Homo sapiens: one gene and its partners. The protein of the gene in region 3 interacts with the protein of the main gene of each other region in a biochemical or structural test. Each region holds a gene or a part of one and is shown on either strand. Other genes may lie near its edges.

The links.
Region 1: of the proteins of RICTOR (region 3) and AKT1, one has a biochemical effect on the other in vitro, tested with the Homo sapiens proteins (7 studies listed by BioGRID, with this or other methods).
Region 2: of the proteins of RICTOR (region 3) and GSK3B, one has a biochemical effect on the other in vitro, tested with the Homo sapiens proteins (2 studies listed by BioGRID).
Region 4: of the proteins of RICTOR (region 3) and PLK1, one has a biochemical effect on the other in vitro, tested with the Homo sapiens proteins (one study listed by BioGRID).

Annotation. Positions count from the first base shown.
Region 1 is NC_000014.9:104,792,749-104,799,846, forward strand, and holds the start of AKT1 (RAC-alpha serine/threonine-protein kinase), read right to left. Parts: upstream 3,001-7,098; 5' UTR 2,736-3,000; intron 2,460-2,735; exon of another isoform or gene 557-2,459; 5' UTR 379-556; intron 1-378. UniProt on the Homo sapiens protein: AKT1 is one of 3 closely related serine/threonine-protein kinases (AKT1, AKT2 and AKT3) called the AKT kinase, and which regulate many processes including metabolism, proliferation, cell survival, growth and angiogenesis.
Region 2 is NC_000003.12:119,909,097-119,916,954, forward strand, and holds part of GSK3B (glycogen synthase kinase-3 beta), read right to left. Parts: intron 7,079-7,858; coding exon 6,948-7,078; intron 3,715-6,947; coding exon 3,608-3,714; intron 1-3,607. UniProt on the Homo sapiens protein: Constitutively active protein kinase that acts as a negative regulator in the hormonal control of glucose homeostasis, Wnt signaling and regulation of transcription factors and microtubules, by phosphorylating and inactivating glycogen synthase (GYS1 or GYS2), EIF2B, CTNNB1/beta-catenin, APC, AXIN1, DPYSL2/CRMP2, JUN, NFATC1/NFATC, MAPT/TAU and MACF1.
Region 3 is NC_000005.10:39,070,928-39,079,126, reverse strand, and holds the start of RICTOR (rapamycin-insensitive companion of mTOR), read left to right. Parts: upstream 1-4,727; 5' UTR 4,728-4,749; coding exon 4,750-4,798; intron 4,799-4,968; coding exon 4,969-5,016; intron 5,017-8,199. UniProt on the Homo sapiens protein: Component of the mechanistic target of rapamycin complex 2 (mTORC2), which transduces signals from growth factors to pathways involved in proliferation, cytoskeletal organization, lipogenesis and anabolic output.
Region 4 is NC_000016.10:23,673,858-23,682,330, reverse strand, and holds the start of PLK1 (serine/threonine-protein kinase PLK1), read right to left. Parts: upstream 3,443-8,473; 5' UTR 3,399-3,442; coding exon 2,991-3,398; intron 2,248-2,990; coding exon 2,079-2,247; intron 1,418-2,078; coding exon 1,273-1,417; intron 268-1,272; coding exon 174-267; intron 1-173. UniProt on the Homo sapiens protein: Serine/threonine-protein kinase that performs several important functions throughout M phase of the cell cycle, including the regulation of centrosome maturation and spindle assembly, the removal of cohesins from chromosome arms, the inactivation of anaphase-promoting complex/cyclosome (APC/C) inhibitors, and the regulation of mitotic exit and cytokinesis.

The DNA of each region.
Region 1 (7,098 bases), on a different chromosome or scaffold from region 3:
TGAGGCCACGCCTGGCTAAGGGCAGCTCCTCGCCCTGGGTGAGCCAGAGACCCACTGCACGTGCCTGGGGGCTCCACCCGCACCTGCCTTCCCAGGTGGGCTGCCATCCCTCTAAGCTCTCTGACCCCCATCTGCCCGCCTGCCTTCCCTCTCCCCAAAACACTCAGGGCTGCCAAGTGTCAAATCCATGTAATTGAACACAGTTCCCTGGACCTGGGCCTCTCCTTATTCTAGGCTTAGAGCCTCCAGCCCCTGCCACCACCACCCGCAACAGCCAGGCCCTGAGAGCTGCTGCCTTGCTCACCTCCCCATTCCCACCTCCCCCAGCCGTTGGACAAATCACCCCCATCCCCAAAAGGCCTTCCCAGCCTCCCTAACCTGATGCACCAGCTGACAGGCTGCCTCCTCCAGGCAGCCCCTTTGACTTCTTTGACCCAGGCTGGCTCGGCCTTCCCTAAGCCCCTGGTGACAGATGGCCCCGTTTGCTCTCCCTGTCCATGGTGTTCCTACCCATGGATCCTGGGACAGGGCACAGGGCTCCTCCCTGCTCCCCAGACTAGGAAAGCAAAGAAATTCAAACATGAGGAAGACAGGACCAGGATGCAGGCCACTGGCGCAAACGGGAGTCCAGAGCCCTCCAGCGCAAGCCCAAAAACCTCCTGGGAGAAACCCCAGGCCCCTCCTAAACCACAGCGCCCCTGCCGGTCTGAATCTGGTTCATTCATTTGGCCAACATGTACCGGGCGTCTCAGGTTTTGCCAGGCCCAGTGCTGGGCGCTGGAGACAAAGAGAGGTTCAGACAAGTCCGTCAGTGAGGAGCACCCAGTCCAGGGTGGTTACAGACCCATAATTACAGCAGTCGGGAGGCAGCAAGTAAGTGGGGGAGCACTGGACAGGCCCCCGCCCTGCAGCGGCCCACCAGCCAACCCTCACCTGAGCACACTTTATCCATTGATCCTGCATGGCTTCCTCATTTCCCCTCTGATGGATGAACTCCTAGGCATCCCTCAAAACCCAGTTCCCACATCACCAACTACAGGCATCCCCAGAAAGAGCACTTCGCATGCTCTTCCTGTGAGCAGTCCTCTGCTACCCTTCCAGATGGGCCTTCCTGAGGGGAGGAGGGTCCTCTCTGGGACCTCCAGGCCAGGCAGAGACCCCTGACGACCTCTGTGGAATGGATCCCAACATGGGTCTTTCCACAGCCAGCTTAGACGCTCTCCCCCCAGGCCACCTTTCTGGCCTCCCGAGGCAAGGGCTGGACACCCACAAAGGGTTGCTTTGCACTGATTGTCTTAAGCTACACTTAGAATGGCAGGAAGGCCCACTGCCTTGTGTCTAATGCCAGGACAGGGAAGACCACACCTTACCCAAAGAGGGAAATGCCCCAAGTACTTAGCAGGATGGAAAGCAGGCCAGACTCGAGGAAGGCACCGCAGGACTCCGAGGGCAGGGCTCCGAGCCGCGCACGCCTCAGGCACAGGGGGCTCTGACGACACTGAGTGGGCGTGGCCTGGAGGCAGAGGGCTGGACTCAAAGACCTCTGGATGTCCCCCCACCCCCACACGGGCCTGAGCCCCTCCAAGGCCTGCTGCTGACAGAGTCAGACAGCTGTCCAGAGCCATGTGTAAAAATACATCTGTGCTCACACAGGGTGGTGTACGTCTGCACAGAAACGTATACACCAGGCCAGCACAGGGCTGCCTGTGGGGGCGGAGGGACCCCGACTTCCCACAGCCTCCGTACCTGCCGCCTGCCTTTACCATAAGCACATATTCTTGCTACTATTATTAAGTCACAACTTAAAAAAAAATACTCTGTTTTCGAAAGGGCTCCTCCATCTGCCTCCAGAACCCTGGTGTATGAGAAGTCTACACAGCTCCCGGGAGAGGCAACCGGACCCCCACCAACGGACTCCGTCCGCCCTTCGCTCGGATGAGGGACTCAAAGCAGTCAAGAAGTGGCCACCTGGAGCAAGGCCGAGAGACCCAGGAGTGAATGTGGGGCGGCCTCTGGCTGCAGAGCAGGGGCCCAAGCTCACCCGCTGACCAAGGCAGCACTCAGAGGCCGTCCCGACAGGACCAAGCTCGCTAGCGCCCCAGGATACTCAATCTAAGGGGCAAGCCCCAGCTGCCCTCCAAGCCTTGGCCTCTGGGATGGGCGGGCAGGACCTCCAGGGCCCACCCAAGACAGGAAGCAGTTCCGGGGCCCAGGAGGGTCACAGTCCTTTGTGGCTAGCCTGGGTACCCCGCCACCACGTACAACTTTTCGTCCGTGGGAAACGAAGTCTCCTTCCGGGGCCCTCCCACAAACTTGAAGGCCGGCCGCGGCGAGTCTTTCTCCAACCCCGGGGCACCTCCGCCGGCTGCCTCGCTGGCCCAGCGCCCGGGGAGCCCCACGGCCCGCAGGGGCACCCCGAGCCCCAGCTCCAGGCCCGGCGGCGTCCCTTCTCTCGGGTCCCGGCCTCGCCCGGCGGAGCGGCCTCCCCAAGGTCATGAGGGAGGCTGGGGCCGGCAGCCTGCACCCCCGGCGCCCGGCGTGGGGCCGCCCTCCCTTGGCCGGGCCCGCGCGCCCCGCGCCCTCCCCGCCCAGGCCCGCTCGGCCACTTCCTGCTCCCGCTCCTCCATTCTGGCGGCGCCGCGGCTCGCGCCCCGGCCCGACCGGCCGCGAACAAAGCGGCCCGGCCCGCGGGGAGGAAATCCAGGCCCGGGCGGCCACGGCGGGCGGGGACTCACCGGGCCGCCGCGTCCGGGCGCGAGCGCGGGCCTAGCCGGGCCGCGGCCTCCGGCGCCCGCCGCTCCGCATCCCCGCGGGCCGGCGCTGGGCGGGGCCGGGCTGGAGGCCGCGGCGGGCGGGGGCGCTGCTCGGGGCCGGGCCTCGCGTGCCGCCGCCGCTCGGTGCCCGGTGCCCAGCGCTCGGTGCTCGGCCGCCTGCTCCCGTCTTCGGGCCGCGCTGCGTGCGCTGGGCCAGCCGCCTGCCGCGCTCGGTCCTGCCGCCGCCGCCGGCCCGCCCTCTCCCCGCCCCGCGCCCGCCCCGCGCCCGGAGCCGCCCGCCCACATCCGCCTCCGCCGCCCGGGGCGTCCCCACCGCGCGGCCGGCGGCGAGGGCGGAGCGCGCTCGGGGAGCGCGCGGCCGGGCTGAGGGGCAGCTCCCGACGACCTGGGGCCTGGGCTGGGCCGCTAACGGAGCCCGGCCACCAGCCAGCCCGTCCCGGGGCCACGCCCTCTCTGGCCTCAGTTTCCCCGTCTGTAAAGTGACCCGGCGCTTCTGGGCTCGCTCTGCCGTGACCCTAGCAGAAGGGGCCCGAGACAGGTCAGGGACGAATCCCGGACTTCTGCCTCCGCGCGCGGGGCGGGGGTGGCTTAGGTTGACTTTCAGGCTGCCCCACTCTGGGGGGCGTGGAGGGGGCGGCCAAGAGTGACCTAAAAGGCCCAATCCCAAGACCTTGTGCCTCTGGGGGAAGTGCGGGAGGATGCCAGGACAGGAGGTCAGTTGGAGGTGGGCCTCCAAGGAGCAGGAAGGCTCCGAGGGGAGTCAACCATTCACCTAGGTACTGGCAGCTACACTCACAAAAGGGGGACTTTGCTGGGGAGTGGGAGAAGAGGGGCACACCTTGCCTGGCTCCCACCTTGAGCTGGGAGCAGACACCAGACAGAGGAGGAGCGGTGTCTAGGGTGGGCTGTGACAGCTGACAGCCCAGAGCCCTCCCTGCTGGGTGGACTTGGTCAGCCCGGACACCCAGTCCGAAGTCCACTGGGAGGCAGATGGCCCGGGTATGGAATGAGTAAGTGGGACACAGACCCCTTTCTCCTGGACACTCACAGGAGAGTGCAGGTGACTGCCACCCCGACCCCTTCCTAGCCAGAAGTTCCTCCGACAACTGCCCCTCCCCCATTCCAGAGGCCCACAGTTGATAATAACCCTTTTGTGAAAGACAGACTCTTGTGAGTTACCTTCCTGAGGCTGCTAAGTATTGGGGTTGGGGGAGCATTTTTATTTTCAGCCAGAGTGAGTTCAGCTGGCAGCAGGGGAGGGGGTGGGAGGAGATGCAGACAGAGGCAGCAGGTTCGGCCCAGTGCTCAGGACAGAGTCTGCAGCCAAAACTCGGGCTTCATCCCTGCCTCTTGGGGCTGACCAAGAGAAGGACTCTCTCCCCCTGCATGAGGGCACTCGCTCCTCAGACAGGGGACTCCCCATTCCTGCCTCTCGCCTGAGCACCTCTGCTCCCTCCCAGCTCAGACTTTGTAACCCCAGGAAGGGCCCACCTCCAGGGGGCCAAGTCAGAGGCCCAGTGGTCTGCGCCGCTTGGGTGGGATACCTGACACAAGGGTTGCCCCCAGAGCCTGGGCGTCTGGTGTCTGTCTCTCACCCAGCAAACCTGCACCATGAGCCACCTGGGGCTCCCTCTGGGACTGTCCCACCTGCCCACTGCTCCCCGAGGAAGAGTTCCTGGTATCTGTCCACCATCCTGGGCTCTGCCATGCAAGGATGGAGGAAGGAATTCAGGGAGGAAGCAGAGGGTAAGAGGGCCATGAGACAAGGCCAGCAAGTGGCCGAGGCTTGGGGATGTGGGAGGGAGCAGGGCACCCTCTCATGGAAGAGGCAGTGACATTGCGGGCTGTTCTTGAAGTGGTTGGACCTCTTGCTTATTTTGCACTGGCTGTCTCCAAGGAGGCCTCCCAGTCTTCCCAGCCTGGTGCCCTGGCATCTGCTGGTGCCTGCAACCCACTGTGGGCCCCACACTCCAGTCCTGTCTTCACCTTGGCATGAACTGCCCTCCCCCAAGACGGGGATCTCCCAGTGGGCAGGGCCATCTCCCTCTCCTCCAGCGTCCCAGAGGGAAAGCAGAGTCCTCTCTTCAAGAACACCCCCTCCCACCCCAGACAGAATGGTCAGGAGAGAACCCAGCCCCACGGCTGCTGCTGGGACTGCTGAGGTGCTCTGTGGCCAGATGTTTCCGACAAAAACTGCTGCACCAGGGAAGGGCCCGACGGCTGCCTCCTCCCAGAGCTCAGGGGCCTCCTGCCCTGTCACCTTCTGCAGCTGCTGGCCGGGGGCAGGACTCGAGGGCCCTGGGCTGTGTAGGTCCCAGCAGCAGCTGCAGGGCGGGGCCTCAGGGCAGCTCCCAGGCCAGATGGCCGCCTGAGTCTGCAGAGGTTCTGCCTGAACCACCACCGCCGCGACAGTGGCTGTGTGACGGTGTCCTGTCATTCCTGCACTTGAGACCCAGCCAGTCACAGGGGCTCTGAGGACTACAGGCTGGCCAGGATCCCAGCACCAACTCTGGGCGGTCTCTGCCTGGAACAGCCCCCCTTCCCTGATCGGTGTGGGGCAGGAGGGACTTGAACCCAGACATCCCGACCTGAGAGGGATAAGGAGCTTCTCTCCCACTGTCCCCTCCCCTTCATCTAGCCCATTCCTAGCTGGGCCCTCCTTCCAGGTCCTACCCTAGGCTCCTGAAGGCAGCATCCTGACCCTCCCTGTGTACCACAACCCCCATTAAGTGTCCAGGCTCTCTCTGTCCCGCCAGCCAGGCAGGGCAGGCTAGGGTGCTTGCTCCCAGCCTGCAGTGGGGAGCTGTCAGCCTGTTGCCCAGAGCCCCAGTGTGGCAGGCCACCCCTACTTGCTCTGAAGGTTCAGGGGCTGGGGGTGTGGGCAGGCAGGGCTGGAATGTTGCCACAGAGGAGTCAGGATTAGGGATGGTGGGACCATCGTAATCACTCACAGAAGCAACCGTCACACATTCACTCAACAAACATTTACTGAACACCCACTTGCGTCCTGCCAACTTTTAAGCACCAAGTGACCAAACAGCCCCTTCCCTTTCAGAAGGTGCTGGAATATCCCACAATCACAGGACACCCGGAATGGGCTGGAAAGGAGGGTATGCAGCAGAAGGGACTGCGAGGGAACTTAGCGAAGGTGGGCAGGAATGGCCACCCTGACTAAGGAGTGGACTTTCAGCAGAGACAGGGATGAAGAGAAACCAGTGAAGGGTTCTTTGGGGAAGAACATTCCAGAGCCTGAGAGCTTGCTGAGTGCCAGGCCCTGTCGTTAATGTTCACGAAGACCCCGGGATGCACTCTGACTCCCATTTTGCAGATGAGGATTACTGAGGTTCAAAGAGGTTAAAGGTTTGGTCGTGCTCAAGGTTGGGAGGGGCCGGGGCAGGGCTGTGATCCAGGCAGGGCAGGAAGGGAGCAGTCACATCTGAGTTCACCCTTAACTTACTTGAATTCAGCTATTCCTGCTGGTGGCTGGGGCAAGGCAGATGATTATTTAAATGCGTGGAGAGAGGGGAGTTGACCTTCCTCAGGAAGGGGTCCTTAGGGTGGATGGCCGGCGGCAGTGGGAGCCAGGCCTCTGCCGTCCCTAAGCTAGTCTCAGTGGCTGTAAGTGCAGTGTCATTCCAGGGGTCCAAGCTGCAGTTGCCAGGTTTAGGAAATAAAGATGCAGTCCATCCGGTGAAACAAGGAATGATATTTTAGTATAACAACGAGGCCTTCCTTCCCAGACTTCAGATCCCACTGTGGGCTCCACTCCTCCTGCACACACATACCTGGCCGGGTCCTGTCCTTTGTGATCCAGCCCCTCTTCCAGCACCACCCCCACCCCACTGCTTGGCCTTGACTGGGGTGACTCCTCCACTACATTCTCCATTTCCCGGACTCCAAGGCAGAGAAGAATGAGACCGGCTGAATTCAAATCGTGGTTCAGTGACTTACTGCCTGATACATGGCTCTGGGTACCTTACCTAAACTCTCTCACCAAAAAGGTATGAAAATAAGAGCGTCTAGTTAATGGGACTGTTGTGAAGATGATCCGGTGGTCTAGAGTACCTTCAAACCTGCTCAGTCAAGGGCAGCCCAGGTTGTGCCCCTGGGAAAAGGCTCCATCTGCCTGGGAGGGACCCTAACCCCGCCAAACACACTCTCTACTTCTCTGGCGATTCCCTCTCCCACAACCAGGCGTCCCCCTCACATCTTCTCAATGCTTCTTTGCCCTAGAACACTTTCCCCCACTCCTCCCTACCCCCACTCCCATGCCAGCCCCTGTCCGGAGTCTCCTCCTCTTTGAACACGTTCCTGCCTACCCTGG
Region 2 (7,858 bases), on a different chromosome or scaffold from region 3:
CAACCTCTGCCTCCTGGCCTCAAGCCATCCTCCCACCTCATCCTCCCAAGTAGCGGGGACTACAGGGGCATGTCACCACGCCCGGCTAATTTTTGGTAGTGACAGGTTTTCACCATGTTGCCCAGGCTGGTCTCGAACTCCTGAGTTCAAGTGATCTGCCCACCTCAGCCTCCCAAAGTGCTGGGATTACAGGTGTGAGCCACTGCACCAGGCCAGGTCTGTTTTTTGTTTGTTTTGGTTTTCTGTTACTGTGGGGATGTTTTTGGTTTATTATTTGCATGCTTTTGTTTGTTTCTGGACTAAAGGAATTCTCTTCAGAAACAATATGTAAGAGTAAAATAATTTTGGTTTCCACTTGCACATCCAGCTTAAAGTTGCTCCTTGTTTGTTAGCTTCCTATTCATGTCCAGCTGATCATGCTCTCTCTGTTCACTCCTGGCTAGTGGGCTAAGATGTAGTAAAAGAGAAGGTCAATAATGATTAAAGCTAATGGTCTCTATTCAGTTCCTTCTATCACTAAACATCTTGGGTGACGACTTGAGAAGGTCAATGATGATTAAAGCTAATGGTCTCTATTCAGTTCCTTCTATCACTAAACATCTTGGGTGAAGACTTGAGAAGGTCAATGATGATTAAAGCTAATGGTCTCTATTCAGTTCCTCCTATCACTAAACATCTGGGGTGAAGACTTGAGAAGGTCAATGATGATTAAAGCTAATGGTCTCTATTCAGTTCCTCCTATCACTAAACATCTGGGGTGAAGACTTGAGAAGGTCAATGATGATTAAAGCTAATGGTCTCTATTCAGTTCCTTCTATGACTAAACATCTTGGGTGCATACTTCTGCAGAATCAGTGCATCTAGCAAAACTACTAGTGATTTAAGCTGATTTTATATTAAATAATGGAGATGGCATGAAGGAAATGTTAGCAATATGGCCATACTATCACTTTCATTATTAACTTAATGAAATAACATTAATTAATAAATTATCCAACTAGTATAATCATGCTCAGAAGTATTTCAGGAGGATTTTAAATAAGAAAGTAAAAAAAAGTTACTTAGAATTAATTTAAATTCTTAAGGTAAAAGCTATTAGCTTTATGATTCTAACAGTCCAAGGAAGAAAAATAGAATAGTAGGTATACCTTAAATTCTAAAAAGTAGAATTTGAAAAATTCTATACAGGCATACGTCAGAGATGTTGCAGAACTGGTTCCAGACCATAACAATAAGACACAATAAAGCAAGTCTCACCAATTTTCTGGTATCCCAGTGCATATAAAAGGTATGTTCACTCTATACTGTAGTCTATTACTTGTATAATAGAATTGTATAAAAACATAAATGTAATACATTAACTTAAACACACTTTATTACTAAAAAAAAATGCTAATGATCATCTAAGCCTTCAGTGAGTTGTAATCTTTTTGCTGGCAGAGGGTCTTGCCTTGATGTCGATGGCTGCTGACTGATCAGGGTGGCAGTTGCTGAAGGCTATACGATGTGGCTGGAGTAATTTCTTAAAGTGACAATGAAGTTTGCCACATCAACTGACTCTTCCCTTCATGAAAGATTTTTCTCTAGTAGGAGATGCTCTTTGATAGCATTTTACCCACATTAGAACCACTTTCAAAATGGGAGTCAGTCCTCTCAACCCCTGCTGCTGCTTTATCAACTACAATTATGTAATATTCTAAATCCTTTGTTGTCATTTCAACAATATTCACAGCGTCTTAACCACTAGTAGATTCCACCTCAAGAAACCACTTTCTTTGCTCATCCATAAAAGAAGCAACTTGTTTATGTTTCATCATGAGATTGCAGCAGTTCAGTCACATCTTCAGGCTCCACTTCTAATTCTAGTTCTCTTGCTAGTTCCACAACATCTGCAGAGACTTCCTTCACTGAAGTCTAGAATGCCTCAAGGTCACCCATGAGGCTTGGAATCAACTTCTTCCAAAATGTTGTTCATGTGATTGAGTCACAAATGTTCTTAGTGACACCTAGAATGGTGAATCCTTTCCAGAAGATTTAAAATTGACTTTGCCCAGATCCATCAGACTAATCACTATCTAGGGCAGCTATAGCCTTACAAATGTATTTCTCAACCTTTGGGTGACCAGTTGCACTGTCCATAAGCAGTAATATTTTGAAAGAAATACTCTTCTCTGGAGTAGTAGGTCTCAGCAGTGGGCTTCAAATATTCAGTGAACCATGCTATAAACAGATGTGCTATCATCCACTCATTGTTGCTCCATTTATGCAGCACAGGCAGAATACATTCAGCATCATTCTTAAGGGCCCTAGGATTTCTGGAATGGTAAATGAGCAGTGGCTTGCACTTAAAAGTCACCAGCTACATTAGGCCCTCACAAGAGAGTCAACCTGTCCTTAGAAGCTTTGAAGCCAGGCAATGACACTTCTCCTCTCTAGAAGAAGTCTTCCATCTCTAGAAAATCTAGAGATGAAAGTCCTAAACGGTATCTTCTTCCAATTCAGTAGAAGGCTATTTGGTCTCCATTAAAACTCTGATGTTTAATGTAGCCACCTTCATCGATGATCTTAGTTAGATCTTCTGGATAACTTGCTGCAGCTTCTACATCAGCACTTGCTGCTTGCCTTGCACTTTTATGGCATGGTGCAGCTTTTTACCCTTAATCCTCATGAAATAACCTCTGCTACCTTCAGATTTTTCTTGTGTAGCTTCCTCACCTCTCTGTCTTCACAGAATTGAAGGGAGTTCAGGCCTTGCTGGGTTAGGCTTTGGCTCAAGTGAATGTTGTGGTTGGTTTGATCTATCCAAACCACTAAAACTTTCCCTGTAACAGCAATAAGGCTGTTTCACTTTCTTATCATTCATCTGTTCATTGGAGTAGCACTTTAATTTCCTTTAAGAACTTTTCCTTTCTGGTCACAACTTGGCTAACTGTGTGGCACAATTTCGATATGCCTTCCTTGCTCAGCTTAATCATTTCTAGCTTTTGATTAAAAGTGAAAAATGTACCTTTCACTTGAACACTTAGAGGCAACTGCAGAGTTATTAATTGGCCTAATTTCAATATTGTTGTCTCTCAGGGAATAGGGAGGCCTGAGGATAGGAAGAGAGATGGGGAATGGCCAGCTGGTGGAATATTCATAACATACACAACACCGATCGATTAAGTTTGCTGTCTTATATTGTTGTGGTTTGTGGCAAACCAAAACAATTACAATAGTAACATCAAAGACCACTGATCATAGATCACCATAGCAGATACAATGAGAATGTTTGAAATGTTGCAATAATTACCAAAATGTGACACAAAGACATGATGACACAAAGACATGAAGTGAGCACATGCTCTTATAAAACTAGTGTGGGCAGACTTGCTTGACTCAGGGTTGACACAAACCTTTGAGAGGTTAAAAAAAAAAAAGCAGTGCCTGGAAAGTATAATAAAATGAGGTATGCCTATACATGTTTGCATCTCAAGCTTTAAGAAAAAAAACATTATGGGATATATCCATCTTTCCATGGAAATAAAAGTACAGATTAGTAGTACTAAATTACCAAAATCAAGAAGCAATTAATAATTATGAGCATTATATTCAGATTTGTACTTACCTATACTAGAGGTATAATCAGTGGCTCCAAAGATCAACTCTGGTGCCCTATAGTACCGAGAACAGATATACGAAACATTGGGTTCTCCTCGGACCAGCTGCTTTGCACTAACAGAAAAAAAATAAAAATAAAAAGCAGAAATTCTTTAAATCTAAACCTTAAAGAACTTAGACTGCTATCCTTTCACAGTATCAAATGATTTTATAAGATTCACATCATTTGAATCATATATGAAAAAGAAAATGTAAACTGTAACTATCTCTAATAAAAGAAATTTACAATTTTATCACCTTGCTCTGCAAAAAAGAATAGCAATTTTTAAAGAAAGCGTTTGTCACCTAAGAAGGCACCAAAAGCAAAAAAGGATAAGTGTTGAATTTCTTCTGATCCTCTGTTCCCCAAATTCCACCTCTAAAATACAAAGAAGCAAGGGCAGAAAAGAGGTACCTCCCCCACCAAAAAGCATGACAATGGATTCTAAGAATGAATACTCCTCACCCAATGTATTTCTTTAAAAAGGGTGAGAAACTGGCCACTGTCTTGCATTTTGACTTCTGACTCACGGCGAATATTTCAAGGCTTATAGACTCAATCTATTTTTCCATATCTTGGTCAATTTATTAACCACATAAACATTTATTACCCAATAAATTATAAACAGGCCCTTCAACTTCAGGGCAGAAATGATTCACTGCCTATAAATTCTAACTCTGCTATAGTAAGTATAATTGCATGTTTTCTTATTCCAATTTTCCTACTAAAATACTTCATTGCATGTATTTTAAATATGAAGTATAATAAATTACAATTAATTTCTTTTGAGATGTCGCCCAAGATAATCCAAAGACAGAATAAAATAAACTGCTGTAGAAGCCAGCCATTCTGACATACATTAATAATAAAGATAAATAAAGGGACAAAATGCAACAAAATCAAAACAGTAAAACAGTAAGTGCCAAAAAAAAAAAGTAAAGGTACTGGAAAACCAGGGTAAAGACAGATGAAAGTAGTCACAAGGATTTCAATGACTGGGATTTCTTTTCTTCCATTTATTTCTAGTCAATGATGACTCTAACCTTAACTTCTTTTTCCTTCATCACTAGTTTTGAAGTTTGTTTTTTAACCCTCTCCCCAAGTACTGACATACAATAACCATTTCATAAATTAATAAATACTAATCCCTGTTTTTAGGCTGCATGAAAATTATGACATTTAGTTTTCAGCATAATTGATAGGAGACTGTTATATCTTCTAAAGGATGCTTTTTAATTAACAAGATAGATGCTAATTATGTTCAGAAAATTCATTACGAGACAAAACGTTAATACCCAAGCTTTGTAGCCTGAAGTTTTTTCACTACCTGATGGAGCTACAAAAACGGAGCAGCCTCTCTTACAGAGGAGACTGGTTTTAACTACTTCCCAATATTGTGATCACATCTAGCTTTTTGTTCCTAAATAGCCCAACTAGTTCTTTAGCTACTTTTTGGCCCCTTTTCATCTAGTAAAAAAATAAGAAGAAAGTAATAGTATTTTGTTCAAATTACCAATCTGATAATGTACAGTCCAAAGTGTTTCCCAAACTCCATCTGACCAAACCAATTTTGTTAAAAACAAAAAAATCAGAGGGTTTATAAAAATGAGCTATCAAACAAGCGAAATCCCTCTTCCAAATTTATCAGAATAAAGCTATTTTATGTCCCAAGAGAATGGGCTGTACCAAGTGTTTTGACACTATATGAGAACAGAAGCTCTTCTAACCTTGGTGTCTCAGTCTGTCCCTACCAAGTCAGTCACTCTCAATGGTGAAGACACCCCATTAACAATAAAACATATCTGATTTGGGCAGTTTTTCCTATAGACAAGTAGTAGTGCTTTGTTTCAAACACCAGGTAAGAGTTTTACTATCTTTCACCCTTTTTAAAAATAGTTCAGGGAACAGAGTCATGGCCTGCAAAGTGATAGGTCATCTGAAATTAGAAAACAGTAAAATGAGGACAGTCTGAAAGAGGACACATTGTGAGACTAAGAAAAATTAACTCATGACAGAACAGATTTACTTATTTTTTAAAGGATCTGTCTCAAGAGAAGCCTGTGGAAAACATATCCTATGTTAAACCCCAAATTTAAACTGTGAATTGATGTAAAAGTATTACAAAGGGATAGGAACACAGGTATTAACAAGTGTGGGGCAATATGTTATCTATAGAGCTATGGTGAAAAGAATCTGTAACAAGGGTGAAAAAATTAAATTGGAGAGAATCCAAATTATGTAAAGATGTCTTAGGGACCATGAGGAGAGAGATTAGGTGATTACACCAGTGAGGAAGTAGCGGGGTAACTGCCTGAGTTACATGGGAATGTAGGCTTGACTACATGTTAAAAGGTTAGATCAGAGAGGCACAAAGTACTGAAAACTGAAAATGGAAAGAATAAAGTTGTATTACAAATTCACAGTATATTACCAAGAAATGAGCTTTTAAAAGCAGAAAGTTTGATGAAATTTGCAGGAAAAAGGGTGGAATAAAAGGTTAAATTATAGAGGAAAATGAAGAAAACACTGCATTGTTTTTTATCTCATCCCTGAATTGAGGTTAATTGTGAAGTTAAAAAGATACACAGGAATGTATAATAATCAATATTTTGAAAAAATTTAGTTCTTACTGAAAAAGGAGTATATATACCTAATGTAAATTCAAACAATACTAAAATACAATCAATGAAAAAGTGAGTTTCCCAACTACATTATATTCCCAAAGATCCTTTCTCAGGCAATCAAATATTATGGATTACGTACCATTTCAGAAATAAGCCACACATGTACTTGTGTATATATGTGTGTGTGTACATATATATATATATAGTCACATTCTGTATGTTTTTAAAACATAAAAGGTGGCATACAATACATATACTCTTGATCTTGCTTTCTTCATTTAATGTTTCCTAGACATCATTCCCTTTCAGTTCACAGAGAGTTGCCTCATTCTTTTTCATGGTTGCATGTATTACTCTGCATGTACCGTAATTTATTTAGCCATTTTCCTACTAATGGATGCTTATAAACAATGCTATAATAAAAATCCCTATATATACACTGTATTGTAAATATGTATTCCTAAGGAAATAATTCCTAAAAGTTAAACTGTTAAATGAAGGAGTATATACATTTATAATTTTGACAGAAACTAACAAAACTACTCTCACAGCTGCACTAGTTTATACTTCTTGAATAAGAATTACTGTGTTTAGGCTGATATTGCAAAAGGAATATATTTAAAAGAAGATAGTAGGGGGAGGAGGGGAAAAGGGAAGGGGCAGGGAGAGGGACAGTAGCTTACCTTCCAAAGTCACAGAGTTTTAATACAGCAGTATCAGGATCCAACAAGAGGTTCTGCGGTTTAATATCCCGATGGCAGATTCCAAAGGAATGGATATAGGCTAAACTTCGGAACAGCTGATACATATACAACTGGAATAGATAGTAGAAATTAATTAAATACTTCCTATTCTAAACAAATCAGAATCCTTAAGCAGTCAATAAAGTAACAGATTCTCAGAAAAGAACAGGTGAAATGCTATGGATTACTGGCACTCAATCTTCCTTTCACAAGTTTTGTGTCACTTCTGTATTAATTAGCTATTTCTATATGAATTAGCTAAACTGTCATTAACCATATGTACTATTCGCTTCATTCTTTAATAACTCAAAAGAAGAAAATTTTACAATGTGCTTTATAACTTTTAATTTTACTAACATCTCACATTACAAGCCTGCTAAGATGGGCTTTTATTTAAAACACAAATGAAAAGCTCAGAGAGGCACCCCAAATCATGAATAATCAGTAACTTTGGGCCAGAAACCAGGTCTCCTGATTTTTAAGTTTATAGTTCTTTCTAGTAGAGCATGCTGCTGAATGTAAACGTATTTCCAAAGTGTGATCTTTAGAATATTCTTCTGAGATGTCAGCCTCCAAGGTGATTGATACAGTGGTCTAGGAAAACTCATGTGGACTGAGAAAATCTGTAATCACTGCTCTATCAAGACATCAATAACCCTGTTAGTAGCATCACCATTCTTCCTGTTAATATCCTTCAGAAAAAGTATAATTCAAAATGACATTCAAAAACAGATGCCTGACTATTGACATCATCTTTCAAAAGAGAAGACTTTCTCAGTTTTCTTACCAAAAAGATACACTGAGAAACTGGGTCTGCATGGAGTAAAGAATCAGACTCTTGACTGGAGGAG
Region 3 (8,199 bases):
AATGTTTTATGAAAATCGATGAAGCAGTTCCCATCAATTTAAAAAGGAGTTCATACAGAAGTACAGAGATAGTACCACATGTGATAATTTTGTATAAATAAGACTTTTTAAAAAGTTTAATTTTCACACACTTTGAAATGAGAGGTGAAGAAAATCTTTTGTATTATACAGGTGTTTACTATTTATTTAGTGGCAAGCTTTTTTTTCATGATGACTGGTGGCTTCGAGTAGCATGTTACCTATCAGATTTTTTAAAAAAAATTAAAAAAAAATTTCCCTTCAAGGTAGATGTGATAACAATAACTAAGAAATTTAATACTTCCAAAAAACCTGTGCTAGGATGAGAGCATTTAGAAAACAGATATTTGAAAGTGTTTCAGTTTTGTGATTTTTTTCTGAAAAAACTTAAAATATAAATGTGTCACATATATAAATTTTCATATCTGCACACTTGAAAATCATGGGAACAGAGTTTCCCAATCTGCTTCAAAATCTTTCAGATAAATGGTTTTGCAACCATTTTGCTGAAAATTTCTAAATGTTATGTCTTCTAGTTTGATAGGAAAACTGATTGACATTAGGCAAGATGAATATTTGTTAGCCAAATTACTAGTTTGATAGGAAAACTGATTGACATTAGGGAAGATGGATATTTGTTAGCCAAATTACATTTCAAAAAGCTTTTGTATCACTGGGTGGACGAAATGGGAAAATGAGTTTTATGGTTTAGAAATGCGGCCAATACAGTAGTTCTTCCATTTTTAACTTTGCATTTTGTGAGGTCTCAGCTATTAAAACCCTATACCCACATAAACTCTTCTTAGAACTAGACTTTTAAATTTCAGTATCACAAAGTATATAACAAGAAATGTCGAGAATAATGAAGTATATTCAGCCCCATTGCTTTGTATTCGTGTCATTAGTAAAATAACATTAAAAATTACTTTTAACCATTTTTATTTTGTGTTTATGTTTTAAGTTCTAATTTAATTTAAAAAGTGAATATATATGTATTGCAGTGTATGTGCAAAAGTTCTTTTTTTAATGAACAGATGCACAAATAATTTTGATTGTTTATAATGACCTGTTAAGTAAGTCATTATTATAATCAACTGTTTATAATTTTGGTTTAGAATAGCCAACAAAATTTTTCTAAAATAGTTTTCCTAAAAAAATTCATGAGTAAAAATTTGTTTGGGAACAAGTAAAATGAGAAAACGGGAGAGAAAAATCACTCCAAATTCTACCATCTGTAGATAATAACTGTTGAAATTTTACTGCATACCCTTCTAGATTTCATTTTTTAACATATCTTCATCTTCCATAAACATAGGTTTATTCTTCATTTAAAACTGTTAGTCATAGAGAGTCTCTTTAAAGAATTATTTAAAAGGAAATTTATATGAGATTTTGGGACAGAGATTAAAATTTAAAGACACAATACTCAGGGGCTCTGTTCTGCTGTGACCAAGACATAATTAACACTGGATGGGATTGTAACATTTGTTAAATTTAATTCATTGCTTGTCGTGTAAATGGCCTTTAGATGTCTCAAATGTGCGGTTTAACTATGAAGTTACCAAGAAATAGTCTGACCAAATTTTGTGGCTTTTTACTTGCTTTATCTTCAAATGGCCTATGTACCAAGGCAGAGAGATTAAAGGGAACTAAGATTTTGATAAGGCTTTTGTTTCTGTTCAGTATTACAACTGTATCCCAAACCGATAAAATATGGTTTACATACTAGAATTATTACTAGAATTCTAGTTATATACTAGAATTATTAACTGCATGCAGGAGGGTAGAGAATAGAACCAAGGGAGTGACTATGAATGGAGTAATTGTATCCTCAGAATTAAGCAGTTATCTTCCAAAGGTATGGTCCTGGACTCGATCTTCTTATAGAACATTTTTTATCAATGACTAATACTACCAGAAAAAAAAAAACAGTCACTGACACAGCAAATGAAACCTAGCTGGGAAACGAAAACTAAGAAGAGGAAGTCACATTCTCAATGACCAGATTAGAATCAAAATAAAAATTGGAGAAGTAGTAAGAAGTAAACAAAATGAGTAAGTCATATGGGTCGGCTAAAAGATGCAAGGAAGAAAAAGAAGTTTCAAAAGGAGGAATAGCTAGCAATTGGCAAGTATCAAAGAAGAAAATTTAGGGGTTTTAACAAGTATCAATCTGACTATAAACAATAAAGTAGTGCTACTGTTTAAAAAGCAAACACATTATAAAATGTATTCCTTACTAAAATTTATCTAAACTTCTGCTTCCTAGTTGAGTGTCACTTGCAAACACTAATAACTTGTTCCTTTTCACCAGACCTGCCATTCACTCTAAGAGCAAATATGGAGAACCTAACCACTCAAACGACTGAAATAGTAACAGAGAAAAAACTAGTTTCGATGAAAGATTGAATGTAATTTTTTCTCCTGCAAGAAATAGAGTAATTGAATAATTGTCTTTAATAGCATACAGTTATAATGATTAAAATACTACTGGATTTAGGCACTTATGTACCTCAAGTAACTTAAAAGTAGATTAGTTGTACTCAACTTTCATAAAACACCGAGAGAAAATGAAGTTAAATTGTATTAGGAAGGAGTTAATGTAGAATATAGAGGGATTTTATAATATGATAAAAGATTTGTTGAAAATCAGAACAACTGTAAGAATCTGGTATAATTTCTACTGATAGATCTCTACTTTTCTTTAAGGGTGAAATGTGGTGATACATGGAGGGTTGAAATCCAACCCTCTGCCAGACCTCAAGTTTTGTGATTTTTGTTTTAGGCAGTAACTAGAATAAATAAATTGCACCAAGATTTTTAAAGCTATAACGGAGGGAGCACGCTTGTTGACATTAAAACTACTACTGGTAATGCCAGAAGACATTTCTTTAAAGTACTGTAATTGTGTTACATCCTTAAATCTAAGTGCAGTATCAGCCGCAGATATCTGATTGTAGACTTGGTTTAAAAAAAAAAAAAGAACTGGAATATATAGATAATTGGCAATATTCTAAGGAAGCAGTGTTCCTATTTTATTTTCCAGATGATGCTACTTTATGTTCCTTTTATTTTTCTTCTTACCACTTATTTTACAAATGACATATATTAACTATAGGATATTTAAAAAGTAGAGACAAGCAAACAAGAACAAAAAAGTGCACGTGTAATTCCACAAATGAGGGGAGAAAATCAGCTAACATTTTCATGTATATTTTCAGACTTTTTTCAACATACATGTACATATAAAATATTTTATAATGTATATTTTTAATTTCGTACATATTTAAACTTTTATTATAAAACAGGAAATTTGTAATATTTTGCTTGATTTAATATCATGAACATTATTTCCTATTACTAAGTCTACCTCTTCACTTTTAATCGTTGACATAATTTACATAATCCCTACCTTTGGTCATTTAAGTGTTTCCAAATGTTCACTCTTATTAACAACTTCAACAAATATCCCCAATATTGCTTTTTTTTTCTTTTTTAAAGTAAGCAGAGAATTGGAATAAATTAGAAATCCAGGGCACTTACTCATCCAACAGATATTTATTGAATACTTATTTGTGCCAGATATTGCATTAACTGGGAGCTGGGAAAACAGAACTGGTTAAGGCTAGATCTCCACTTTTAATTAACTTTCAGTCTCATGGAATAGAAAGATGAGCTGAGGAACTGGAGAGGACAAATCGCTCCTCTCTTTAAAGTAAATGTAGTTCAAGAGAAAGCTGCTGGGTCAGTGGCCAGGTGTGTGTGTGTGTGTGTGTGTGTGTGTGTGTGTGTGTGTGTGTGTGTGTGTGTGTGTGTGTGTGTGTACACATACGTATTAACTAAGCAGTTTCTAGAATTAAAATCCCTAATGTTAATAGGCTTATGCATAAAATAGATTAATCCACAACACCTGCATGAGCCACGATCCTAGGAGCTGCAGAGCCATAAAAGCCGGACACAGTACCCAGCAGCCTCGCCTCGGCTCCCGGCAGAGAACACCCTCTCCCCGGCCTCCCGGCGCTGGCGCGATCCCACCGCGGGGACCGCCGCCCTGGTCCCCGGCCGCTGCACCCCCTTCTCGCGTCCTACGCCTGGCGGCCAAAAACAAAACTGCCTAACCACTTCCACTTGGAGAAGCCCTCCTAGCCGAGAGGGGCATTCTGAAGATCAAGGGCGAGGCTGGAAAACAAACTTTGTTACGTGTTAACTTAGTTGGAGCAAAGCGATTCCAGGAAAGGAGTCTAAAACTGTGCGCAGCGTTTTTATAAAAAAATGTTTCAGTGGATACACGGGGGAGCGGGGCCGTCTATGGCAGGGCTTCAGAGCAAGCAGGAGACTGGCAGGCCGGCGAGAGCAGGTGGCCCGCCGGCCGCATCCCGGCCTCCTCCTCCCCGCTCGCCTGCATTTGGACGACGGCTTCCGCGGCGGCCGGAGGGGAGCATCCTCTACACTGCCAACTCGCATCAATGGGACTTTCCTCGTGGGAACTGCCCCTCCCGGCGGACGTGCCCTCCGGGTCCGGCGTGGGCGGGCGGGTGCCGCGAACTCCTTGCAGACCTTGGGTCGGCTCAGTGCTCCCTCAGCGCTGGGGCCGAGCCTGCACCACCCGCCGCCGTCGCCGCCGAGGGGGCGGGGGAGGTGCCGCGGGGGGCGGGCGCGGCGCGCGGGGAGGGGAAGGGGTTCTCGCGCGATTGGGCGAGGTTTCCGGTGTTGTGACTGAAACCCGTCAATATGGCGGCGATCGGCCGCGGCCGCTCTCTGAAGAACCTCCGAGTACGAGGTAAGCCCGCTGCAACCCTCACTCCCCACCGCCCGGCGCCCGCCACCCCTGGCACTTGCCTTCCCCTGGCCCTGGGTTGGGGAGCGAGCCGGGGCGCTGGCCGGAGCCAGGGCAGCCGCAGCTGGCCTGCGAGCCAATCCTAATTGGGGCTGTGTGTCTGTTTCGCGCAGGGCGGAATGACAGCGGCGAGGAGAACGTCCCGCTGGATCTGACCCGAGGTAACGCGGGGCGCCGCGGGCGCCGCGAGGGCGCGCTGCTGGGGAGGAGCCGGGTCCGGGGCTGGGGGCCAGAGGCAGGGGCGGGCCCCGCACGGGACCGGCGGGGTGCGGGGGCCAGAGCCGGAGCCCCGCCTGCCGGCCCGCGGGAACCGAGCCCGGGGCCGCCTCGCCGGACCCATCCCCCTACCCAGCGCCCGCTTCCCTCGCCCGAGCCCTTCTCCGGGCCTCGGGCTGCTGCGGGTGCGGGGGAGCCCCGAGTGGAACTCGGCAGACCCGGCGACCCTCTGGGCTCGAGCTCCGGCAGAGTGGTTTGCACCTATCCCGGAGTCCGGCAGCCCAAGCTAGGGGCAGCTGGAGGGAGGTAGAGGCTGTTATTTAGGTTGCAGGAGGATGTTTGAGGGAAGAGCGACCACATCCTGCCCTCCCCGTCCCCGGAGCAGAAGCCGGACCTGCTCGGTGCTTGCCGACTGCGTGACTGCTTTCCCCTTTGCCCACCGTCCTGTGGGGACCCGCAGCATTGATAACTTGGTAGTGAAACCTAGAACTGGTCATTACTGCTAAATGTCTGGTTTATGCTGTTTCCCTTCTGCTTCCCTTTCCCGGGCCGCTGGGACTGTAGTTGGCTAAAGACCGCCCCCTCACCCTGCTGCAGGTTCATTGTTTACCTTCTGCAGTGGAGATGGGTTTGTTTACACCTTCCGAACTGGGGAAACTCGGGTGATATTTTTAATGACCTAATCCCGTTACTAGCCAGTGTTTCCTCTATCACTTACAGTACTAGAGTTTATTCGACATTATCTCGTTGAAGATTTAGTAGTTACGTACAAGATTCTTTTCTCTTCCACGGTAAACAGGATTGAGCCTACTGATTCCGACGAAGTCATATTTCACACGGGCTGTAGCTTGGAGTGTAACCCGGTTCAGCTGTACAGAATCAGTTTCTGAGGTCTATAAAACACCTTAGGAAGTAAACAAAAAAACTTGTTGTAGACATTCTGTATGAGATCAGTTTTTTACCCTATGTCGTACCTGACGTAATGACTGTTATCTACAGTAATTTGTTAAAGCTGGGCTCCTTGTTGACAACGGCTAGAGTGAAAGCATAGTGCATTTTCTAATTTGTTTTATTTTGCTTATCACGATGTAAGATTACTGTTTTATAAACTGAATGGTCAGCTTTCACTTAGCTACAAGAGTACATTTTTATAACTTAATATTTTATTCTGAAAGTTCAGGGACTTAGTTTTGGGTGAACTAGGTCCTTTTACAAGACAGTTTCTAAAATATAATACAATATAGTAGAGCTTAAATCCTGAAAATGGCTACTAATTAGATTATCAATGCACTAATTTCCACCATTTTTTTCAGCAGATCGGTTTTGAGAATTAGTATAGAAAGATGTAAAGCTTTTGACTTCTGTGCAACTGTTTGGAAACTTGACTATAACACACATGTGAAAAATCTATATAAAATAGATTCACTAGAAAACTTCCTAACAAGGATAACTTCTACAATTTCAGGTCTGTAAAAGATGTAATTAGTGAGTGATTTAATTTATATACAGGCATATGTGTTTTAGATGAAGGTGAAGGGAGCCCTTAATAAACTTGAGTTTAACTTGTGCATTAAAAACCTGCTCAGATGTGGTGCTGGAAATATATAGTTGTATTTTAAATTGAGTTCGTCGAGCTCCTATATATAGTGGTTTCTCTGCTTGGTGTCAAAAATGTTGAGTTGTGGAAGAGCTTAGGTACACATCTGATTTGATAATTTTGGCTTACTCCAGTTTTACTGAGGCACACAGGTAACTGTTTACTATTTAAAATGCCATATTAACTGAGAATTTAGTAAGCACCTATGTCCATAGGTATTTCCAGGTTAATATAGATAGTGCAGAAAATGCTGTTTTCGGCTTGCCCTGACAAAATGTACTTCAGTTTGGAATAAAGTATACACAGCCATTTAAAACTGATTGCAAAAATAAAGAGTGAGGGATTGTTTGAGATCTGTATTTCTAAATCATAAGGAAGTTTGGAATTAATCTGAATCAGTCATTTTATAGTGATACTATTGTTTTAAAAAGTTGCTGTTGTGACAGACATTTCATTGTTCAAAGAAGGCTTGAAGAAAATTCATGAGGAATTAAAGTTTAGTAATAATTTGAGAACTGTGAGGCAGTTTGGGTTGCAGCTGAAGGGCAGCTGTTTGTGGATTAGATTACAGTATGTAAAAAGATAAAGTTTGGGCAACCAAAAATTTTTTTGTTTAATGCCAAGGCAGTGTTTGCTTTTATTCTTATTTTTTAAATTTAATCTTTGAGAGATTCATTGTGTAGTTACCTAATAAAGCTCATTATAAAATAGAGGACATGGTCATTGTAATCCCTAAAGGATCCATCAATGTGTAGTGAAAAGAGAGTTGACTATAAAGTCAAATCATTCTGGATTGTAACCTCAGCTGTGAGATTTAATAGTTGGGTGATTTGGGGCAAGTTATTTGACCTTGCTTTACCCCTGATTTCTTCATTTCTAAAATAAGAGATAACTTCAAAGGGTTAAGAATGTGAAAAGTAAATGAGCTAGTTCTTAATTAAAGTACTTGGCATAAGACCGGATACTTTGTAAGTGATATTTAACATTAGTTGCCTTCCTACATTGTGAAATCACAGTTTTAAAACTCACATTAAAAATACTTTAAACGGTTGTTTTGAATATTATAAACTTGTTAATAAGGAATTATGGTATTCGAGCTTCTTTTTTTTTTGAAACATACTGTTATACTAATTGGGTATAGTCTATCTGAGTTAGAGTTCTTGAATATAACAATTGTAAAGCAATCTGTGACATTACCAATAAATTAAGTCTAAGCGAAGTGCAGTATGTTATATTCACTTAGGATAAAATGTGATACTGTATTTCATAGAACCTTAGAATTTTTGTCTCTGACACCAGGACATTTCATACTATTTAATAATGACTTGGCTAGCCTTGCAAGCTTCTTGAGGCTCAGAAGAATTCTAAGTTTCGTTGGTTTTGGTACTTGTGTTAGTGCTGTGGTTCATACATAGAGTGCCTCAGTTAAAAATTGTTGATGGATTAATTTTTATCTAGTTTAGGAACTTCATTATAGTAGACTTTACAGTCAGCGTATTGGTAATGGTTGCTCTGAGTTTTGTTCAGACAA
Region 4 (8,473 bases), on a different chromosome or scaffold from region 3:
ATGTGCACATACATGTCAAGTTCTGTATGCAATTTCAGACACAGGCCCTCTCAAGCTCTGTGGCTACCTTAGAGGTGGGATAGACCTATTTCTGGTCCTAGGATATTGCTGGGCTCCATAAACAGCTTCTGGGGAAAACAAAATAAATGTAAACTTAAAGCATCATTAGTCACCTTGGGAATACTGTATTCATTCTTCTTGATCCGGAGGTAGGTCTCTTTTAGGCAAGAAGTCTCAAAAGGTGGTTTGCCCACTAACAAGGTATACCTGTAAGCACAAGGTAGGATTTGGCACCAGTCTCCCAGCCACAACCCAGACATGAGAGAAATCATCTCAGGGTCAGAACAAAGGTCAGGCATCCTCTGGACACTCACTCTAACTCTGGGGCCCCTGAAGACAATCCCTAAGTCCACTGAGCAGCCCCAGAAGCCATGACATTGGCTAGAATAAGCCCTCAGCAGAATACACATGGTGAGACCAGGATTCTTAAGGGCCAGTGATTTTTTAGCTATAGCCTGTGGTCATCTAGGACTCTGTGCAAGGGCCTCAGATGCTGCCTGTCATGCAAAACAGGTCAAAGGGCTACCTGCGCTTACAGAAGCAGCTCCACCTTTAGCAGTTCTGTACTTAAGTCTTCAAGTTTTCATTTGAAAAAACCCCACTGCAAAGACGTATGAAAGCCATTGCTACAACTCATTTCTAACTCTCCAGTACCTAGGCCCAAAACAAGAAAGATAACACCTGAAAAGGCCCAAGCCTCTGCCTGCCACCAACCGCTGCTGATGGTCTTAATCCAGACAGACCACTGGCACATCATCTTTCCATCTGTAACTCCTGGCCTAATTTCCCCCACCATGCTAATGCTCATCGGTGTTTAAGACCTTATTGTGCAAGGGAATCACCAAGGGACCTTGTTAAAAATCCAGATTCTGATCCAGTAAGTAGTCTGGGTCCTGAGATTGTGTATACAAGTTCCCAGATGATGGTGATGCTGCCCTGTGGACAACTCTAGCAAAGGACTACAGTAAGGTTGTGGAGACTCTCCCTCCTCCTCCTCCGCTGTACCCATGACCTAGGCTGCAGAAATCCGACAGGATACACCAGTGACAGGGAAAGATATGACAATTAGGCTTTGTTTGGGGATGACTTGTCCCTTGGAGTAGGCTTTCTGTAAAGCAGGCCGAAAGGTCCACAGAAAAGGTCAGCCAGGTAGGATGTCCCAAAGTTGCCCCTGCTGAGACCAGGTTGGTCCAGAGACAACTCCCAACTTACATGATACACCCAATGGACCACACATCCACCTCGAAACTGTGCCCTTTCTTGCTCAGCACCTCGGGAGCTATGTAATTAGGAGTCCCACACAGGGTCTTCTTCCTCTCCCCGTCATATTCGACTTTGGTTGCCAGTCCAAAATCCCCTGGGACAGAGGGAGGAAGAGTTGGTACTTAGATGCCAGCCTCTGACATCTGTCAATGCAGAAGGCTAGTTAAGGTTTGACCATCCAGAACCAGGGCCATCTGATCCCACAAGCCTCTGCTCCTTGTATGTAGCAAGGCTTGCCCAGGAATCTTCCTCCCATGCTGACACCAGGGAGGTGCCTCCAGTGACACTTCTCACCCCTCCTTTTAGAAAGGGGCTATGCTTTGAAACAGGAACTGACAGGGATAGTAAAACTCCAATGCCTTCAAGGATCAAGCAAGTTAACCTCCAAGACTTGGCAAGTCTGTGAAGAATAGGGAGGAGTAGAGACTGTGGCAAAGAAGTCTGAAGGGGACAGCTGTTTTCCAGCCCAGCAAAGGGCTGCCCTAAGAAAATGCTGTCCTCGTATTACTGAAGCTTTCACCTGTTTAAAAGGAGTTCTGAATCAAACTTTTTGTTCAATCAAACCTTCCAATTTAAAAAATAAAAACAAATTCAAATTCTTTGTAAAAAAAAAATATTGCATTGGGGCACAAAAAAATAATGCATCTGTAGGCAAGATACTGACTTGTGGGTTGTCTCCTTCCTTTCTCCCAGCCTCCTCCAAATTCCAGCCTCTTGTAGTGATGTCAAGCACCCCTGCAGGCTCAGCAACTCACCTATTTTCACCTCCAGATCTTCATTCAGGAAAAGGTTGCCCAGCTTGAGGTCTCGATGAATAACTCGGTTTCGGTGCAGGTACTGGCAGCCAAGCACAATTTGCCGTAGGTAGTATCGGGCCTCAGGCTCAGTCAGGGCTTTCCTCCTCTTGTGCAGCTCCAGGAGAGACTGTGGGTGGGAAGGAGAGGGCAGGAGGGATGGGGAGGTGGATTGAGGCCGGTGGGGAAGGGAGAGGGTTACCAGGCAAAGGAAGCACAGGACTGGACTCTGGACTCCCAAGGGATGAAAGAGGGGTCTTGGTGGGTTTCTCTCCTTCCCTATGCCCCCACCCCATTCCTTCTCCAGCACAGCGGCATCTGGACCCTGCCTTAACACTGTCCACAACCATTCGCAGCACCCCTTCTCCTACTAGCTTCCCCCCTTACCTGGGGGTCCTCTCTCAGCCCCACTCCGGAAGCTCCGAGTCCCCAGCACCAGATCCCTTTCCTGACTCGTATCTCCCCCGGAAGGCCCGAAGTCTGGCTCCAACTACCCCCCCACTGACCCAGCTCCACCCCAGAAGCTCCCAGGGCGCGGCATCACTAACCTGGGACTCCTCCCTGGGTACTCCAGGGCCCTAGCGTCCATTACCAGCACCCCTCCCCCCAGCACCTCGCGTCCAGAAGCTGACTTCCCTATCAGCAACATGACTCAGACTCCACTTCACTGGAACCCCCTCCTCTAGCAGCTCCCAGAGCCAAGAAGCCCTTACCAAAGACACTTTCCATACGTAAGCGGGAGGCTCCCAGCACCCTTCTCTAGCAGCTCCAAGTCCCAGGCTCTCCCTTGCTGGGTACTCTTTCCAGCAGCTCCAGGTCTGGGCGCTCCAACTGCCCCGCAGGCAGTTCCAGTTCCCCAGCAGCGACACTCACCCTCCGGCGGCAGAGCTCCAACACCACGAACACGAAGTCGTTGTCCTCGAAAAAGCCGTGGAATCCTACGACGTGCTGGTGGGCGAGGCTGCGGTGAATGGATATTTCCATGGACATCTTCTCCCTCTGGTGCGGCTTGAGCAGCAGAGACTTAGGCACAATCTTGCCCGCGAACACCTCCTTGGTGTCCGCGTCCGAGATCTCGAAGCACTTGGCAAAGCCGCCCTTGCCCAAAAAGCGGCCCCGCACATAGCGCCGCCGGCTGCGTGGGTCCACTAGGACCTCCGGGATCTCTTTCGCCGGTGGAGCCGCCGCCGGAGCTCCGGGAGCTGCAACTCCGGGGACCCCGGCTTTCCCAGGGTCGGCCGGTGCCCGTGCCAGCTTCCCTGCAGTCACTGCAGCACTCATGCTCCCGAAGCTGCGCTGCAGACCTCGATCCGAGCAGAGCCTCCGCACCGCTCCGCTCCTCCCCGAATTCAAACGCGGCGCTGGGAACGTTACAAAAGCCTGCGCGCCACTGATTGGCCGCGGGGATTTAAAATCCAAACCCGCCCGCCGCGCGGCACCATGGGAGCGCCCTGCGCAGCAGCAGCCTTTAAACCCGGACCCAGCCGGGGAAAACCTGATTGACACGGACGCCCGAACACGTGGGATAGCCTGGGAAACCAAACCCGGCGTGGATGCGGAGACCCAGCCCCGAGAGAGGAGGAATTCCTTCGGGGTTTCTCCCTTTCTCGGGCGTCCGGGAAAGCTCCTGCGGTTCACTTGCGCCTCCTCCAGGAAGCTTTTACTTAAATCTTCCTCTACCTCGGGGCCAGGGAACAGTAGCATCGCCATCACCTGAGAGCTTGTTAGAACCGCAAAGGCAAACGTTCAGGCCCTACCCCAGACCTCCCGAGTCAGTGTCCGCCTCTCAACAAGACTGCTCAGGTGATTCCTACACATCCTGAAGTTGGAGAAGCACAGTACCAGAGCCCCCCATGATGCAACGAAGCTGTCTGGCCTCCTCGCTACTGAATTTCCCAGGGCCTAAAATAGTGGACACTCAGTTTCTTGGTCAGAGGGAGGGAAGGTTGGAAGAATGCCTAGCAAACTGGCAGGTCATAGCCAAATGTGTCTTGCGGGGTTTTGTTTGGCCTCCCCCCACGCCTTTTTTTTGTGTGTGTGACGGAATCTTGCTCTGTCGCCCAGGCTGGAGTGCAGTGGCACGATCTCAGCTCACTGCAACCTCTGCTTCCCGGGTTCAAGCAATCCTCCCGCCTCGGCCTCCCTAGCAGCTGGAATTACAAGCATGCACCACCATGCCCGGCTAATTTTTGTAATTTTAGTAGAGAAGAGGTTTCACCATGTTGGCCAGGCTGGTCTTGAACTCCTGACCTCAAGTGATCTGCCCCTCGGCCTCCCAAATGCTGGGATTACAGGCGTGAGCCACCGCGCCCCGCCATTGTAAAACATTTACAGCATTTAAAAGAGGAGCTCATAAAAGTTGGGATTTGTGGCCTTTCCTGAAAAAAATCAGCTCTAGCTACTTACTCTGTGCCTACATGCTTTCAGTTTGCCACAGTTTACAGCTACACCCGTTTGTTCTGTAGGTACTTGAGTGGCAACCCTGGAACAGTAAAATACCCACGTTAAAAGCTCTTTCTCTGTGCCTCCTTAGCACCCTCTGATCCTTCATAGAGCCCAGCAAAAATCAACCATACTATAAGCATCCTTCACCTGCCTTGCAGCTAAGCTGAAGGACAATGAGGACAATGATGCCGTCCTTTCTACCCCATGTCCCAAGCTCCCAGAGCAGTGCTTGGTAAAAAAAAAAGGGTACTTACTAAAATGTTGGCTGAATAAAAGGAAGACTTTGAAAAATTAAGTTATTTTGTACCCCTATAGTGTGAATTCTTTTTATTGAAATTTAATACACTTACAGAAAAAAATGTACATATTATAATTGTTCATAGAGCTCAGTGAATTTTCACAAACTGAACAAATCTGTAAACCACACCCAGATTGAGAAAGGGAACATGACAAACACCCTGCAAGTCTCCCTTGTGCCCTGTGCTGGGGGGTGCCAACACCACCACCTCCTAGTCTGATGATGTACTAGGAGATTCACAGACTCAGCCTGTAGTCATACTCATGGCTATGTTTTACTACAGCGAAAGGCTAGGAAGCAAAATCAGCAAAGGAAAAAAGCGCATGGACAAAGTCCAGGGAAACCAGGTGTAAGCCTCCCACAGTCCTCTCCCAGCAGAGTCACATAGGACACAATTCCTCCAGCAATCAGTTGTGACAACCCATGTGCAATGTTGTATACAAGGGAAGCTCATTACAGACTCAGTGTTCAGGGTTCTCATTGGGAGCTGCTCACCTCATCCTCTGCCTAACACATATGAAAATCTGACTCCCAGAAGGAAAGCAGATGTTGGGCATAACCCACATTGTTTGTACGAACAGTTTAGGCACAGTGAGCCACTCTTATCATTTAGGGAGTAATGAGAACCCTCCTGAAATCCAAGCTTTCAGATGCCAGCCAAGGGCCAGCCTTGCAAACAGGCCTGCTTTCTCATCTCTTTTCACACAGTCCATCTCCTTATTGAGGCTTCTTTACAGCAAAATTATTATTAGTAGGACCACATGCAAAAGGGTGAGACCAACCTCAAATATGGACCTCAGTTCTTCCTGGTAGGGGTCCTGGACTTAACCAGCTAAAATAAATCCCATTAACCATAAAGTCTATCTTAGGAAGCCAGGTGGCTTCCTCCTTAATTCCTTTTTGTTGTTGTTGTTGAGATGGAGTCTTGCTCTGTCACCCAGGCTGGAGTGCAGTGGCGTGATCTTGGCTCACTGCAGCCTCCACCTCCTGGGTTCAAGCGATTCTCCTGCCTCAGCCTCCCGAGTAGCTGGGACTACAGGTGCACACCACCACACCCAGCTAATTTTTTTATTTTTGTAGGGACTACAGGTGCACACCACCACACCCAGCTAATTTTTTTATTTTTGTATTTTTACTTTTCACCATGTCGGTCAGGCTGGTCTCAAACTCCTGACCTCAGGTGATCTGCCCACCTCAGCCTCCCAAAGTGCCGGGATTACAGGCATGAGCCACCGTGCCCAGCCCTTAATTGCTGTCTGAACCTTTTTTTTTTTTTTCAACCTGACCTGAGGCATCAATTCAGGCACAGTATAACTCTGACCAGTAAGCGGAAGCTAACCCAAATGCTTTCCAGGGCTGAGGGGACATCATGAGAGTTGTGGTCATGTACAGAAGCACAGTCCCAGGGGCACAGGTGGTACCCCTGTAAACAAAGAATTTGCAATATTAGGGCACCTCAAGCAGGACATCCATTAGGCTGTACAGGTGAACAGACCTCCTACCAGGGGAACTCCTGCCCAAGTGTTTCCAGTCCCATCTGAAAAGTTCCCAGAGTCCTTGGCTTCCAAGGGACTGCCTGAAGGCAGTGAGTCCCAAACAGTTTTGCTTGTTCAGGATACAAGTTGATCCATCTCATGAGCATGGATGACATTTGTGGGAGATCTTCATGGAAAGCATAGAAGCTAGACCCACTCTGTTGTCAGTCTGAACTCAAAGCACTCACAGCACATGGAAAGGCAGCACTGGGAATTTTCCTTCAGCAAGAGGAGGCTTCCAGGGATCAAGCCTCCCCAGGTGCCAGGCTTTAATTATTTTCTCCAATATTACAAAAACAGTCGTGCCCTGTTCAGCAATCATAACATTGCATTTTTTCAACCATCTCTTACTCTCAGCTAGGCCTTTCCTCTGGAAGGGTTGTATGTAAGAGGCACAAAAGCATTTTTGTAGATAAACTTTTTTTTTTTTTTTTTTGAGATATGGTCTGGCTCTGTTGCCCAGGCTAGAGTGCGGTGGCACGATTTTGGCTCACTGCAACCTCCGCCTCCTGGGCTCAAGCCATCCTCCTACCTCAGCCTCCTAAGTAGCTGGAACCAAAGGCACATGCCATCATGTCCAGCTAATTTTTGCATTTTTTGTAGACACAGGATTTCACCATGTTGCCAGGCTGGTCTTGAACTCCTGAACTCAAGCAATCTGCCCACCTCGGCCTCCCAAAGTGCTGGGATCATATGCATCCATCACTGCGCCTGGCCAACATTTTTTTTTTTAACTATCATCCTAGAGTTCAAGTAGATAAACGTTTTTATGCAACTTAACCAGAAAGACATTCAGAAATTGGTAATTATGTGTGGAGGGTTGAATTATGTCCCCACAAAAATTCATGCTGAAGCCCTAACCATCTACCTGTACCTCAAAATGTGAGTATATTTGAAGATAGGCCCTGAAGAGGTAACTAAGTTAAAATGGGATTGTTAGGATGGGCCCTAATCCAACCTGAGTGGTATCCTTATTAAAAGAGAAGATTAGGACACAGACACCCAGACAGAGGGACCATACAAGGACACAGTAAGAAGGCAGCCATCTGCAAGCCAAGCAGAGAGGCCTCAGAAGAATCTAAAGCTGTCGACACCTTGTCCTGGACTTTCAGCCTCCAGAACTGCAGGAAAATAAGTTTCTATTGTGTAAGTCACTCAGTTTGTGGTACTTTGTTATGGTATCCTTAGCAAACTAATAAAGGATGAAACCCTGAATTTTTAAAAATTTCAAAATGTGTTTACATAATCTTCTACCCCTTTTGTCCTGATTATTCAATGAGCAGACTAGAAAAGCCTAATACCTTTCTGGGGACAGCTACGTTTTAATAATCCACCTACCTTACTAAGCTGTGTGTGCTGGGAGAAAAGTGAGGGAAGTAGAGTCAGGCTGTCAGTCCACTGTTGCAAGCTGCAACTAATCCCAAAAGCTGAATGCAACAAGTCAACAGCAGTGAGAGAAGCCCCAGAGAAGGTTTGAGTCTGGTCTGTCAAAAGCAGGAGGAGAGGTCATAGTCCTTGCGATGTGCCCTTCCCCAGCTTGGAGCGTTTGGCAAATATTAGAAGTTAGGAATGCAATTAGCCTCTGTATTAGAGACAAAGAGCCTATCAGCAGCTTGATCTTAGATGGTCCCATTAGAGAATAAGCCCTTTTCAGCCAGGTTCCAGGACGTTTTCATAGTTTAGCGCTCCACGGAGGGGGTCCTTAATCTCCAACGGCCCCAACGTCTGAGTCCTGGTCATTGAGCCTGTGCCTGCTTTCAGTTCAGCATAGCTCGTGTTGAGGCTAAAACAGCTCAAGGCAGACAGTAGCAGGTTTCAGCTTAGAGTCAGGGCCAGGCAATTAGGATCTGAGAATTTGAGATTCTCAACAAGCAGCTGCTTTTCTTCAGCAGCAGTGAAGGCATGCTGCATGGCCAGACAGCTGTGGTCCAAGTGACATGCAAGGCTGCCTTTTTATCTTGTTGGTCTTAGAGTCCAATTGACCCACTCAAAAAAAATGCATATTAGACTAGACAATCATCAGCCTCTAAGGGGAGACATTTGATTTTGACAAGGGTTCATTAGCAATTTAACTGTAT